4 linked regions of the Homo sapiens genome follow. The protein of the gene in region 1 interacts with the protein of each later gene in a biochemical or structural test. Each region holds a gene or a part of one and is shown in the gene's direction. Other genes may lie near its edges.

Region 1 (3,202 bases):
CTCCCGAGTAGCTGGGATTACAGGCACCTGCCATCATGGCTGGCTAATTTTTGTATTTTCATAGAGATGGGGTTTCACCATGTTGGCTAGTGTGGTCTTGAACTCCTGACCTCAGGTGATCTGCCCGCCTTGGCCTCCCAGAGTGTTGGGATTACAGGCGTGAGCCACTGTGCCCGGCCAAAGATTTTGAACTACAAAAGAGAAACCTGACATGCCAGTGTCACAATTCTGTATTTCCATGAATAGCATGGAGGACATGAAATAACATTATGTTAGTCTATTCTTGCATTGCTATAAAGACCTGAGACTGGGTAATTTATAAGGAAGAGAGATTTGATTGGCCTACAGTTCTGCAGGCTGTACAGGAAGCATGGTGCTGGCATCTGCTTCTGGTGAGGCCTTAGGAAGCTTACAATTATGGTGGAAGGTGACAGAGAGCCAGCATATGACTTGTTGGGAGTGGGAGCAAGAGAGTGCCAAGGGAGAGGTCCCAGACTCTCTTAAGTAACCAGATTTCATGTGAACTGAGTGGGAGCTCACTTACACCAAGAGGATGATGCTAAACCATTCATGAGAGACCCTCCCCGATGATCCAGTCACCTTCCACCAGGCTTCACCTCCCACACTGGGAACCACATTTTAACATGAGATTTGGAGGGGACAGACGTTCAAACCGTATCAAACATGAAACTGCATTTCGCATCCTACCATAAAGCCTTGTTTTGGGGTGAGGAAGTGGCTGTAAGTGAAGAATGACTGCCTCGTTTCTGGTTTGGACAACTGCATTGGAATGTCTGTGGGACATGGAATTGGTCATACAGGTGTAGAACCTAAGACAGGTGGCCTCGGCTGGAGAAATAAATCAGGAGGTGGTCGTGGAAGCCATGGGATTAGATGAGTTTACTCGTGTTGAATACAGCCTGAAAAAGGAGCATAAAACAAAACCGAGGGGCACCCATGAGGAATGGGCTGAAGAGGGAAGATACTGAGGAGGATGGACACCAGGAGAGAAACAAGAAACAAATAATGACATGATTGTTTTGTGAAAAGGGGAGTGGCCAACACTGTCAAACACAAGAGAATTGGAAATAACTAATGAGCTACTGTGGGAAGAAAGCCACAAATGAAATCGTTTTCCAAGTTACTTTCTCTCTCTATGCCTTAGATTCTTGGTAAAAAGAGCACCTGCCTCATGGGGTGGTTGTGTGGGCAAAATCACCTGACTGATTTAATGAATGCAAACCACTTAGAACAGTGCCTGGCATACAGCACGCCCTCAGTAAAGGCTCGCTCTTACTCTTATTGCAGTTGACTGGGCAGGTGATGTCATTAGGTTAAAGGTGTTCTGTTATATTTAGGAAGGACAGTAGAAAAAAGGCCTGAAAATAAGCCTGCTGATACGAAGATTAAAATCTGCCTATAAAAACGGGATAGTAGGGATTTTCTATTTATTTTATGATTTGAAATCATTCAGGACTTTCTTTTGATGCTCATAATTCTTTAACCATTTCAGAACTGATTGATGCATTTATAATGCTACAACAGAATCTTATTGGCTGGCTGTATTCGTGTATAGGGTGACCATAACAAAGTACCACAGACTGTGTGGTTTAAACAGCAGGAATTTATCGTCACAGTCCTGGAGCTGGAAGTCTCAGATGAACGTGTGGGGAGGATTGGTTTCTTCTGAGGCCTCCCTTTTTGGCTTGTAGGTGGCCATCTTGTCCCTGTGCCTTCATATGGTCTTTCTTCTGTGCATGTCTGTGTCCCAATTTCTTCTTATGAAGACACTAGTCATGTTGGATTTGGTTTCACCCGTATGACCTCATTTTCCTTAATCACCTCTAAAGGCCCTGTCTTCCAATACAGTCAGAGTTGAGGTATTGGGGCTAGGACTTCAACATATGAATTTTTGGGGAACACAATTCAGCTTGTAAAAGTCACTTATGAGAAGAGTTTAATGTTAGCCTCTGAGTGAGTCAGAATTTAATGTTAATTATGAGTCTAAATTTAATGTAAATTCTGAGTGAGTCAGAATTAGTGGGTAAAAATTTGAGACCTCACTTTTTAATGGGCACACAAGGAAGATGGTGCATTAGTAGGTATCTCCTCAGGTCAGGCTGGATGTCATTTTAACTCCTAACAATTTATAGCAGCAGCCAGGCAAGCAAAAGTCAATCTGGAAATACACTGCCTGCCTAAACAGAAACACTTAGGTCAATACTATAGCTTTCAAAAGGGAAGGTAACACCGTGTGCCCTGGGTGTGGTTAATCTGTAAGAAATTTTAAAACCACAAGCTTTTTCCTCTACAGTATACCCTTCTACCAACATAATTTGATGTATACTTGGGGATGCCAATTTTTTCTTAAAACATTAACTAAAAGAAAGCCTAAGTAAGGAAACAACTTTGTTGGCTTTTGTGCCCTCCAAACCTGAATGTATTGCTTCTGAACTGCTCAGAATGTGGTTTCTGTTGTAATGAAGGGGTACTGGCTTACACATTCACTGCACACATTAAGCACTGGGAAGGAAACAGTAGGCAAAGAGGTGGGTTTTTCCTCCTTGTCTTGTAGGCATGTCGGGGAAACCAGCACGATGTGCCAGTCATTCCTTTGGATGTAGTAGATAATCAGACAGAGAAGTTGGACACCAACATAACTGAGGTGGATGCAGCCTCCGTTTACACGCTGCCTGCTGGAGCTGACTTCCTCATGTGTTACTCTGTTGCAGAAGGTGTGTGGTGTTTAAAACAAACATATAATTGCCTCTCTTGGCTAAGGTCCTGTAAGTTTCACCTTTGATTGGTTTGGGTCAGATCTTTCGGTTGGGACATGGTGATTCCATCCTGAAGCTCACAGACTTAGAATTTCTTTGACCACATGGCACAGAGTGATAAATGAAAGTGTAAAGTACCTTACAGAAAAATAATTCCTGAGAGTTATGTTGAGTAAAGCAACAGTCTAATTAATTATATTAGTATTAGCAGCCTACCATCAGTTACTGAGGGTGGTAGTGCCATTGTGGTAATTGTCATGGAAAGCTTTAATTTTTTTTTTTTTTGAGACAAGGTCTCAACTCTGTCACTGAGGCTGAAGTGCAATGGCATGATCATGGCTCACTGCAGCCTCAATTTCTCAGGCTCAAGCAATCCTCCCACCTCAGCCCCCCTGTAGCTGGGACTATAGGCATGCACCACCATG
Region 2 (4,043 bases), on another chromosome or scaffold:
TCAGTCCTTTTGATTTCTGAGGCAAATGTTGAATCCCTACCTTTTTTTTTTTTTTTCTTTTGAGACAGAGTTTCGCTTTTGTTATCCAGGCCGGAGTGCAGTGGTGTGATCTCAGCTCACTGCATCCTCCACCTCCCAGGTTCAAGCGATTCTCCTACCTCAGCCTCCCTAGTAGCTGGGATTACAGGCACCTGCCACTATGCCCGGCTAATTTTTTGTATTTTTAGTAGAGACAGGGTTTCACCATGTTGGCCAGGCTGGTCTCGAACGCCTGACCTCAGGTGATCCACCTGCCTCGGCCTCCCAAAGTGCTGGGATTACAGGCATGAGCCACCACTCCCAGCCTGAATCCTCACTTTTTATCAATGAAGAAATTGAGGCTGATTCTGCAGCATGATAAAAAAAAATACAGAAAAAGGAAAAAAAAGAAAGAAATCGAGCCTCTGAGAGTTTGCTTGACTGAGTCTAACCAGCTCATTTTAAACCCGAGGAAAATGCAGTCACATGACTACTAAGTGGCAGCTCTCGGAGCCTCTCTGGCCCCAAGTCCAGGGTTCCATAGAGGCAGCCCCAGCATGGCATGTTTTCAGTCCCCAAATGAGACTCTGGAGACAAATGTCTCTGGAGACAGAGCAGCAGCCTGGATAAGTCACAATGGGTGACGTCACTCAGGGCTCAACCCCTGGGCAGCTTAACTTGCTAGGGACGTTAGGAGTCTGCTGCAAAACCTGAGGGTCTTAGCTGAGCAGTCACAGGCTGGGCCCGTTGCCCTGGGCTCCTGTGAGTAAAACCCAGTCAATTTTGAGTACCCAGTAAGGCATCCATTGAGTTATTTTGCAGCCAGGAGTGCTATTAAGAACAGTCGCGGCTGGGCGTGGTGGCTCATGCCTGTAATCCCAGCACTTTGGGAGGCCAAGGTGGGCGGATCACCTGAGGTCAGGAGTTCGAGACCAGCTTGGCCAACATGGCAAAACCCCGTCTCTAATAAAAATACAAAATAATTAGCTGGGCGTGGTGGCGGGCGCCTGTAATCCCAGCTTCTCAGGAGGGTGAGGAAGGAGAATCACTTGAACCCAGGAGGCAGAGGTTGCAGTGAGCTGAGATCGCACCATTGCACTCCAGCCTGGATGACAAAAGTGAGATTCCTTCTCAAAAAAAAAAAAAAAAAAACAGTCGTCCTCTTTGGGGATTAGGGACAGCCTGCCTGCCTGCCCGAGCACTTCTCTCTTCCATTGCCCCAGTGAAGTATTCCAGGCCCCTGGGTTTAGACTCTGCACCATGTAGGGGTGTCTGACCTGCACTTGCTCCTTGGTGGCACGGGCAGCCTATGGCACTTGCTGCGGGCTGTGACCAAAGCCTGGCCTGGATCTTGGATCTTGGTGACTCTGCTTCTCCCTGGCCTGAGGGAGCTGCCCAGAGCCTGCCCACCACCTGCTGCGTGTCTTTGCGGTGGCATTTCTCGCACACATGCCGTGCAGTGGCACCCCCAAGGATGGCCATTCACTAAGGCCCATTGTTTTTGTCTTTTCGCTTCGTGTTTTCTGGCCTGGTGTTTTTCTCATATACATGTGATCCAGGGATAATTCCCAGAATTTTGACAGGATTTTAAGTAGCGTTTGGATCCTGCTGTTTTTTTTTCACTTAACATCGGGCCAGTTGACTCACACTCTGTTTTTTGTTGTTGTTTTTTTGAGACGGAGTCTCACTGTGTCACCCAGGCTGAAGTGCAGTGGCACAATCTTGGCATACTGCAACCTCTGCTTCCCAAATTCAAGCAGTTTTCCTGCCTCAGCCTCCTGAGTAGCTGGGACTACAGGCACAGGCCACCACGCCCTGCTAATTTTTGTATTTTTAGTAAAGACAGGGTTTCACCATTTTGGCCAGCCTAGTCTCGAACTCCTGACCTCAAGTGATCCGCCCACCTCGGCCTCCCAAAGTGCTGGGATTACAGGGGACTCACACTTTGTAACAACCTGAAACAACGTGATGCATTTCCCTTTGGGTCTTACCTGCTCTTCGGTGGCTGCCTGCAGGTGGAGAGACCCTCCCCCTTGGGCCCCTCGACCTTGTTTCAGAATGGGGCCCCTGCTGGGCCAGCTGTGGGTGCCTGCCACGTGAAGGACTCATTAAGGCCCTGTTTAAGCCTGATGATAATAAGGCTTTCGTGGATTTTTCTCTTTAAGCGACTAAGCAAGTCCAGAGAAGACCACCCCCTGCAGGGCCCAGATCTGAGAGAGGTACTCGGGAGCCTACTTCGCTGGGAGCAGCCTCCCTTTGCGTGTGTGGCCATTCACTGGCTTGTGTTTCTAGAGCCGGGAGGACCCTTTTCTGCAATGCAGGGTTCACACAGGGTTCGCAGCCTGAAGATGGAGCAGTCCGAATTCTCTTCCCTGTGCAGTTTGCGCAGCTGTGTTTGTCTGATGGGCTTTCTAATCCTGTGTGCTCTCCTTGACTTCAGGGACAATGGCATTACAGGCATGAGCCACCATGCCTGGCTGTCTCCCTATGTTTCAGATGAAGACATAGGCTTAAGGAGGTCAGGTGACTTGCCCACGACCACTCTGTAAATAAGAGGCATGAAAAGTATTTGGAGCCACCACCACCAAGCCCACTGGTCACCCTGGGTCTCTGAAGTCAGGGAGGCAGGAGGATGGGAGGTCTGAGGAGGCAGAGAGGCTGAGCCTGGAGGCCCTGGAGGCCGAGGCCCCATCTGTTGTTTCCTTATGTGGAAAATAAGAGGCTTCGTTTGTCCTATTGCCACAGAGCGTACTACTTCAGGAACATCCAAGACATGGAAATCCGCAGGGCACGGTGGCTCACGTCTATAATCCCGGCACTTTGGGAGGTTGAGGTGGGAGAATCGCTTGAGGCCAGAAGTTCAAGACCAGCCTGAGCAACATAGTCAGACCCCGTCTCTATAAAAAACATTATTTTTAAAAAAGACATGGAAGTCAAATTCTAAAAACTGGTGCTGGCTGGGTGCGGTGGCTCATGCCTATAATCCCAGCACTTTGGGAGGCCGAGGCGGGTGGATCACCTGAGGTCAGGAGTTCAAGACCAGCCTGGCCAACATGGTAAAACCTCTACTAAAGAAATCTTTACTGAAAATACAAAAATCCAGTCTCTACTAAAATAAGTCTCTACTAAAAATACAAAAATTAGCCAGGCGTGGTGCTGCACACCTGTAATATCAGCTACTCGGGAGGCTGAGGCAGGAGACTCGCTTGATCCCATGCAGCGGAGGTTGCAGTGAGCCGAGATCACGCCATTGCACTCCAGCCTGGGCATCAGAATAAGACTCCGTCTCAAAAAAAAAACCACAAAAAAACAAAACAACAACAAAAGAAAACTAGTGCTTATTCGTCACTGGCCAAGCTGCCCATTGGCTACATGGGTGCTTCAAAGAGCTGCCCTTCTCCAGGTCTGGCCAGCAGGTATGTGTTACAGCAAATGCCTGGGGCAGCGGCAGGGGCATTGCTGCGGGAAGCTTCTGGACTTGCAGGAAAGCTAAGTTCTCAGACTGCAGGGGAGCTAAGCACACCTCGGCACAGGGTGAGGCCTGCGGTTCTCAGACTTCAGTCTTTGTGGAGCTTGAGAAAAATGAGGCTTTGCAGGTCCCACCCCTAGAGATTCTGCTCTATCCACTCTTGAAGGGGATCGAGAAATTTGCATTTTGCAACTCCCACTTTCCTCCTTGAAAGCTCCGGAGATTCTGACGCAGGGTTCCGTGGGCCACACTTTGGAAAATACAGACCCATGAGATAGAATACCAGACTGTTGAAGTGTAACGGGGGCCTGGGAAGTGCAGTAACAGAAGCAAGTTTGAGGGTAAAGGACACCCAGAGGAGGGAGGGACAGCATCTGCATGGAGAGGAGAAGAGACCCCCCAGCAGCTTCCAGGGTGTTGGAAGGGTGCGCTAGTAACTGCTATGCATGGCAGGTGGGGAACTGTACGTCAGGGCACAGCAGCATGAAGCGGTATGGCTCGTGTGGACAGCTAGGGACAGGCAGGCGTGGAGCAGGCATCCTGTTCTGAAGGCCAA
Region 3 (4,043 bases), on another chromosome or scaffold:
TGTGGGAGGAGCTGGATGGACTGGACCCCAACAGGTTTAACCCCAAGACCTTCTTCATACTGCATGGTAAGGTGGGGAGGGAGTTCCAGAGCCAGGATGAACCCTAGATTCTGACCCTTCTAGGACCTGAATGCTAAGAGGGGTGTGTCTGTCCCAGGAGGGCTTAGTCAGGCCCAAGAGCCAAGCCTATGTCCCCTGGTTGACCAGACAGCCCTGCCTCTCCCGACTACAAGGCTAGGATCTGCATGGAAGGGTTGGGCCTCTTTTCTAGCAAACACCAGACCTCGGGGTTCTAAGGACAGCTGGTGTCCTCTGTAAGCAAACCAGGCTTGGCTAGGCCTGGGCCCTCTGCCCACAGCAGCCCAGGAGAAGCCCTGGTCCACTCTGGGAACCCTGTCGCTAGGAGTGGGTTGTTCCCTAAGAACCAGGCCTCCAGAAGCCTGGAAAACCCTTTCTCTTTTTCTTTTTCCTTTTTTTTTTTTTTTTTGAGATGGAGTCTTGCTCTGTTGCCCAGGCTGGAGTGCAGTGGCATGACCTCGGCTCACTGCAACCCCCTGCCCTCCGCCTCCCGGGTTCAAGTGATTCTCCTGCCTCAGCCTCCCGAGTAGCTGGGATTACAGGCATGCACCACCATGCCCGGCTAACTTTTGTATTTTTAGTAGAGATGGGGTTTCACCATGTTGGCCAGGCTGGTCTCGAACTCCCAACCTCGTGTGATCTGCCCCCTCAGCATCCCAAAGTGCTAGGATTACAGGCGTGAGTCACTGCGCCCGGCCTCGAAAGCCCTTTCTCTATGGTGGATCAAAGGCACACTCCCCTCAGTCTGTCTCTTCCTGTCTGGAAATGTGGCCTGGGGTTGCCAAGCCCCCTCAGGTATGCCAAGCACCCTGTCCCAGAATCTGTAGCCGGTCAGATAAGCTTAGCAAGGCCTGACTCATTCATTCAGCAAACCTTTCCTAAGTTCCCTCTAAGGACCAAGCTTTGTCAAGACCCCGTGGATACAACTGTAAACAAAACAAAGTACCTCCCCCTCAGAGCCAGTGATCAGGCACACAGATCATACCATACTTTAGTAACTCCACGAGACTGTACAGTATGAGAGGTGCTAGCATTTTACGTAAGCTGCCAATTAAATTAACGTACCATTGAAAACAAGATGCGTCCTGGGCTGGGTGTAGTGGCTCATGTCTGTAATCCCAGCACTTTGGTAGGCCAAGGTGGAAGATGGCTTGAGCCCAGGAATTTAAGACCAGCCTGGACAACAAAGTGAGACCCTGTCTCTATTTAAAAAAAAAAAATAGACCAGGCGTGGTGGCTCACGCCTATAATCCCAGCATTTTGGGAGGTTGAGGTGGGAGGATCACCTGAGGTCAGGAGTTCAAGACCAGCCTGGCCAACATGGTGAAACCCCATCTCCACAAAAATACCAAAATTAGCTGGGCATGATCGTGAGTGCCTGTAATCCCAGCTACTCAGGAGGCTGAGGTGGGAGAATCACTTGAACCCGGGAGGCAGAGTTTGCAGTGAGCCAAGATCGTGCCATTGCACTGCAGCCTGGGTGACAGAGCAACACTCCATCTCAAAAAAACAAAGAAAAAAATAAAAATTAAAAGTTAAATAAATAAAGATACATCCCTATTTCAGGGGTGATAAAATAGAAGAACACAAAAGTGCATCTCAGAATCAACGAAGGTTCTAGGCCGGGTGTGGTGGCTCACGCCTGTAATCCCAACACTTTGGGAGGCCTAGGCGGGTGGGTCCCTTGAGGCCAGGAGTTGGAGACCAGCCTGGCCAACATGGCAAAACCCAGTCTCTACTAAAAATACAAAAATTAAAAAACAAAACAAAAATTAGCCAGGCATGGTAGTGCTCACCTATAGTCCCAGCTACTCAGGAGGCTGAGGTAGGAGAATCGCTTGAACCCGGGAGGCGGAAGGCGGGGGTTGCAATGAGCTGAGATCACACCACTGCACTCCAGCCTGGGCAACAGAGTGAGACTCTGTCTCAAAAAGCAATAGAAAGTAAAAAAGAATTAGAAGATTCTGTAATGGGGTCTCAGGTAGTGACGTGTACTACCTCGCAGCCTTGACCACCCAGGTTCAAGTGATCCTCCCCCTCAGCCTCCCAAGTATCTGGGACCACAGGCACGTACCACTATGCCTGGCTAATTTTTTTAATTTTTAGTAAAGGCAAGGTTTTACCATGTTGCCCAGGCTGGTCTCAAACTCCTTTGCTCAAGCGATCCACCTATCTTGGCCTCCCGAAGTGCTGGGGTTACAAGCATGAGCCATCCCACCGGGCACCACCCCCCGTGTTTTGTTTTGTTTTTTTTTTGAGACAGGATCTTGCTATGTTGCCCAGGCTGGAGTCAAACTCCAGGCCTCAAACAATCCTCCTGCCTCAGTCACCTGAGTAGCTGAGACTGCAGGTGTGTGCCACTGCGCCCAGCTTTAAAGATGTTTAATTGTACAGTTCAATAGTATTAAGTATATTTACACTGTCATGCAACCAATTCTGAGAGCTCTTCATCTCGCACAACCGAAACCGTATCCATTAAACCACTCGCCCTCCCCTTCTTTCCCCTGCTCTCTAGCAACCACCATTCTATTTTCTGTCTCTATGATTTTGACTATTTTAGGTACTTCATGCAAGTAGAATCTTTTGGTATTTGTCGTGTGTGTGTGTGTGTGTGTGTGTGTGTTTGGCTTATTTCACTTAGCATAATGGTGAGGAACTGAAGTTTTCATTCTACTGGATATTAATTTCTATTTCAATTGCCCCATGTGGCTAGTGGCTGCTGTACTGGAGTCCCAGCACAGCTCTAGAGAGGACATTTGGGCTGGATGCGGTGGCTCACGCCTGTAATCCCAGCACTTTGGGAGGCCGAGGTGGGTGGATCCCTTGAGTCCAGGAGTTCAAGGCCAGCCTGGGCAACATGGCACAAACCCATCTCTACAAATAAAATACAAAAATTAGCTGGGTGTGGTGGCGTGCATCTGTAGTCCCAGCTCCTTGGGAGGCAGAGGTGGGAGGATCACTTGAGTCCAGGAATTCAAGGCTGCAGTGAGCTATGATCATACCAGTGCCCTCCAGCCTGGGCAACAGAGTGAAACCCTGTCTCTAAAAAATAGAAAATAGGCTGGGCTCAGTGGCTCACGCCTGTAGTCCCAGCACTTTCGGAGGCCAAGGCAGGCAGATCAGGAGCTCAAGAGATCGAGACCATCCTGGCCAACATAGTGAAACCCCGTCTCTACTAAAAATACAAAAATTATCTGGGCATGGTGGCACGCACCTGCAGTCCCAGCTACTCAGGAGGCTGAGGCAGGAGAATCACTTAAACCCTGGAGGTGGAGGTTGCAGTGAGCTGAGATCATGCCACTGCACTCCAGCCTGGCAACAGAGCGAGACTCTGTCTCAAAAATAAATAAACAAATAAATAGGCCCGGCGCAGTGGCTTACCCCTATAATCCCAGCACTTTGCGAAGCCAAGGCGGCTGGATCCCTTGAGACCAGGAGTTCAAGACCAGCCTGGGCAACATGGCAAAACCCCATCTCTATGAAAACAAATACAAAAATTAGCTGGGTGTGGTGGCGTGCATCTGTAGTCCCAGCTACTTGGGAGGCTGAGGTGGGAGGATCACTTGAGCCGAGGAGTTCAAGGCTTCAGTGAGCTACGATCACACCATTGCACTCCAGCCTGGGTGACAGAGTGAGACCCTGTCTCTAAAAAATAAAAAAATAAAAACCTTATTTAATCTTTTTAATCAGGCAGTCCCTACAGACCAGAATAGGTTCAGAGCAACTCCCTATACCTTTTTTTATTTTTCATTTTTTTTATTTTTAGAGATGGGGCTTCCCTTTGTCACCCAGGCTGGAGTGCAGTGGCGTGATCATGGCTCACTGCAACCCAGACCTCCTGGGCTCAAGTGATTCTTCCACCTCAACCCTTAGAGTAGCTGGGATCATAGGTGCACACCACCATGCCCAGCCAATTTTTAAATTTTTTTTTTCTTTTTGAGGCAGAGTCTTGCTCTGTTGCCCAG
Region 4 (3,944 bases), on another chromosome or scaffold:
GACCTAGACGGGGAGGACTGGCTGCCTCGGGAGCTGGAGGAGGAAGGGCCTCAGGAGCAGCCAGAGGAGGAGGTGACCCCAGGGCATGAGGAGGAGGAGCCTGTGGCCCCCAGCACTGTGGCACCCAGGTGGCTGGAGGAGGAGGCCGCTCTGCAGCTGGCCCTCCACCGGTCACTGGAGCCTCAAGGTCAGGTGGCTGAGCAGGAGGAGGCTGCTGCCCTGCGGCAAGCCCTAACCCTCTCCCTGCTGGAGCAGCCCCCGTTGGAGGCAGAAGAGCCCCCAGATGGGGGGACTGATGGCAAGGCCCAGCTGGTGGTGCACTCGGCCTTTGAGCAGGATGTGGAGGAGCTGGACCGGGCGCTCAGGGCTGCCTTGGAGGTCCACGTCCAGGAGGAGACGGTGGGGCCCTGGCGCCGCACACTGCCTGCAGAGCTGCGTGCTCGCCTGGAGCGGTGCCATGGTGTGAGTGTTGCCCTGCGTGGTGACTGCACCATCCTCCGTGGCTTCGGGGCCCACCCTGCCCGTGCTGCCCGCCACTTGGTGGCACTTCTGGCTGGCCCCTGGGATCAGAGTTTGGCCTTTCCCTTGGCAGCTTCAGGCCCTACCTGTGAGTCTACCTCCTGGACTGAGGGACGGTGGGGTGGGCTGGTTAGCAGGGGCTAGTGCCCCAGGCATGGCTCTGACCCCCCGCTTTTCCCCATGCATCAGTGGCGGGGCAGACGCTGAAGGGGCCCTGGAACAACCTGGAGCGTCTGGCAGAGAACACCGGGGAGTTCCAGGAGGTGGTGCGGGCCTTCTACGACACCCTGGACGCTGCCCGCAGCAGCATCCGCGTCGTTCGTGTGAGTCCATGCCCTGTCTCTCTGGCCTCATGGCGTCCTGGGCTCTTGCACCATTAGCGCCTTGCCAAGTCTGTGGCCTGTCCCTCTCGCCTACATCAAGGTCAGCTGACCAGGAGCTGACAGGCTCCCAGCCCTGTTCTCTGCCCAGAGGGCGTTCCCAAAGTGGGTAGGGAAACAGGAGGGAACAGAGTGGGGGCCTTGGGATCTGATAGGCCTGAGTGAGGGTCCCCACTCTGCCACTCGTGGCTGGGTCAGCAGGGACTATGGGACCAGCTCCAGGCCTCAGTTTCCTTATTTGGAGCATGGGGCGGTGATGCCATCTTGTGGTCATTTTGAGGATTACTCGCTCCACAGATGCGTCCCTTGTGCTGTTCTGGGCGCTCTTCTGCCTCCACAGAAAGGCCCGGGCTCGCTGCGGTCACTGTGCTGATGACACTGCGCGGGGCACTCTCTTTTTTGAGACGGCATCTCGCTGTGTCTCCTGGGCTGGAGTGCAGTGGCACGATCTCGGCTCACGGCAAGCTCCGCCTCCCGGGTTCACGCCATTCTCCTGCCTCAGCCTCCCAAGTAGCTGGGACTACAGGCGCCTGCCACCACGCCCGGCTAATTTTTTAAAAAATATTTTTAGTGGAGACGGGGTTTCACCATGTTAGCCAGGATGGTCTCGATCTACTGACCTCGTGATCCGCCCGCCTCGGCCTCCCAAAGTGCTGGGATTACAGGCGTGAGCCACCGCGCCCGGCCTTGCACGGGGCACTCTCAACTCTTGATGCCCAAAGTTGTGCGTGGGGCCAGCAGCATCACCCTCCACCAGGAGCTGGTCAGAAATGCAAAAAGAACCTCTGGCTGTCCCCAGACCTCACCACCATCATCACCACCATCACACCATCACCATGACCCTCACCACCATCATCACCACCATCATCACCATCACCCCATCACCATCACCACCACCATCACACCATCACCATGACCCTCACCACTCACTGTCATCACCACCACCATCACCATCACCATCATCACCACCACCTTCACCACTCACTGTCGTCACCACCATCATCACCACCACCTTCACCACTCACTGTCGTCACCACCATCATCACCACCACCTTCACCACTCACTGTCGTCACCACCATCATCACCACCACCTTCACCACTCACTGTCGTCACCACCATCATCACCATCACCTTCACCACTCACTGTCGTCACCACCATCATCACCACCACCTTCACCACTCACTGTCGTCACCACCATCATCACCACCACCTTCACCACTCACTGTCGTCACCACCATCATCACCATCACCTTCACCACTCACTGTCGTCACCACCATCATCACCACCACCTTCACCACTCACTGTCGTCACCACCATCATCACCATCACCTTCACCACTCACTGTCGTCACCACCATCACCACCACCTTCACCACTCACTGTCGTCACCACCATCATCACCACCACCTTCACCACTCACTGTCGTCACCACCATCATCACCACCACCTTCACCACTCACTGTCGTCACCACCATCATCACCATCACCTTCACCACTCACTGTCGTCACCACCATCATCACCATCACCTTCACCACTCACTGTCGTCACCACCATCACCACCACCACTACCACCACCACCGTGGCCACCATCATCACCACCATTAGCATCACCACTGTCACCGTCAGCTTCACCAACACACCGTCACCGCTCACCGCCACCAGGATCACCACCACCCAGACGCACTGACCTCATATCCTGGTGGTTTTGTTAATTATACGTACTTGGTTCTTCCGGTGAGCACCTTGATGACTTTAAATGGTATGCTTGAATTTAGTGAGCACCTTGATGACTTTAAATGGTATGCTTGAATTTTTTTTTTTCACTTGACAGCTTTAGAGATTGTTTCTTGCCTTCCCGCATGGAAGATGAGGAGAATGGGCCTCGCTTCTCTCTCTTTTGCCTCCTCCCTCATCTTCCATCTCAATTTGGTCAGTTACATTATTTTTATTATGTCGTAAAGGTTTCTGTAACTATCACAAAGCCTCCATGCGTGGGCCATAGGTTGGTAGACATACTATAATAATGAAAAAACATTTACCACTGAGCCATAGAAAGAGAAGTGAAATCCTAGTTATTAAAATTCTGTTCTGTAAAAAAGATGTTCTAGGATTCAAGGCTAATGGCTTTTCTTTTTTTGACTTTCTTCATTTTTTCCAGGCCATTCTTGACCACCGGGTTACTCAGTACCCCGCTTGTCACCTTTTGGCACAGACTCTTTTGTTTAGTGGGAGTATCTCCTTGAGTGGGTGCTAAACATATTTGACTTTTAAATTTACGTATATGTGAACATATATGTTTAAACATATACATTTATATATTAATATATACATTTATATATATAATTTTTTTGAGACAGTGTCTCTCTCTGTTGCCCAGGCTAGAGTGCAGTGGCATGATCTCGGCTCACTGCAACCTCCACCTCTTGGGTTCAAGTGATTCTGCCTCAGCCTCCCAAGTAGCTGGGATTACAGGCACACACCACCACACCCAGCTACTTTTTGTATTTTTAGTAGAGATGGTTTTTTTTTTTTTTTTTTTTTTTTTTTTTTTTGAGACGGAATCTCACTCAGTAGCCCAGGCTGGAGTGCAGTGGTGCAATCTCAGCTCACTGCAAGCTCTGCCTCCCGGGTTCACGCCATTCTCCTGCCTCAGCCTCCTGAGTAGCTGGGACTACAGGCGCCTGCCACCACGCCCAGCTTATTTTTGTATTTTTATTAGAGACGGGGTTTCACCATGTTAGCCAGGATGGTCTCAATCTCCTGACCTCATGATCTGCCCACCTCGGCCTCCCAAAGTGCTGGGATTACAGGCGTGAGCCACCGCGCCCGGCTGAGACGGGTTTTTTTTTTTTTTTTTTTTGAGACGGAGTCTCGCTCTGTCACTCAGGCTGGAGTGCAGTGGCACGATGTCGGCTCACTGCAAGCTCCGCCTCCTGCGTTCACGCCATTCTCCTGCCTCAGCCTCCTGAGTAGCTGTGACTACAGGCGCCCGCCACCGCGCCCGGCTAAATTTTGTATTTTTAATAGAGACGGGGTTTCACC

Evidence for each region.
Region 2: of the proteins of CASP6 (region 1) and MAPT, one has a biochemical effect on the other in vitro, tested with the Homo sapiens proteins (2 studies listed by BioGRID).
Region 3: of the proteins of CASP6 (region 1) and NUCB1, one has a biochemical effect on the other in vitro, tested with the Homo sapiens proteins (one study listed by IntAct).
Region 4: of the proteins of CASP6 (region 1) and PARP10, one has a biochemical effect on the other in vitro, tested with the Homo sapiens proteins (one study listed by IntAct).

The regions. Positions count from the first base shown.
Region 1 is NC_000004.12:109,690,383-109,693,584, reverse strand, and holds part of CASP6 (caspase-6 isoform alpha precursor), read left to right. Parts: intron 1-2,575; coding exon 2,576-2,735; intron 2,736-3,202.
Region 2 is NC_000017.11:45,991,741-45,995,783, forward strand, and holds part of MAPT (microtubule-associated protein tau), read left to right. Parts: intron 1-2,183; coding exon of another isoform or gene 2,184-2,237; intron 2,238-4,043. UniProt on the Homo sapiens protein: Promotes microtubule assembly and stability, and might be involved in the establishment and maintenance of neuronal polarity.
Region 3 is NC_000019.10:48,913,499-48,917,541, forward strand, and holds part of NUCB1 (nucleobindin-1 precursor), read left to right. Parts: coding exon 1-66; intron 67-4,043. UniProt on the Homo sapiens protein: Major calcium-binding protein of the Golgi which may have a role in calcium homeostasis. Acts as a non-receptor guanine nucleotide exchange factor which binds to and activates alpha subunits of guanine nucleotide-binding proteins (G proteins).
Region 4 is NC_000008.11:143,979,830-143,983,773, reverse strand, and holds part of PARP10 (protein mono-ADP-ribosyltransferase PARP10), read left to right. Parts: coding exon 1-607; intron 608-708; coding exon 709-842; intron 843-3,944. UniProt on the Homo sapiens protein: ADP-ribosyltransferase that mediates mono-ADP-ribosylation of glutamate and aspartate residues on target proteins. In contrast to PARP1 and PARP2, it is not able to mediate poly-ADP-ribosylation.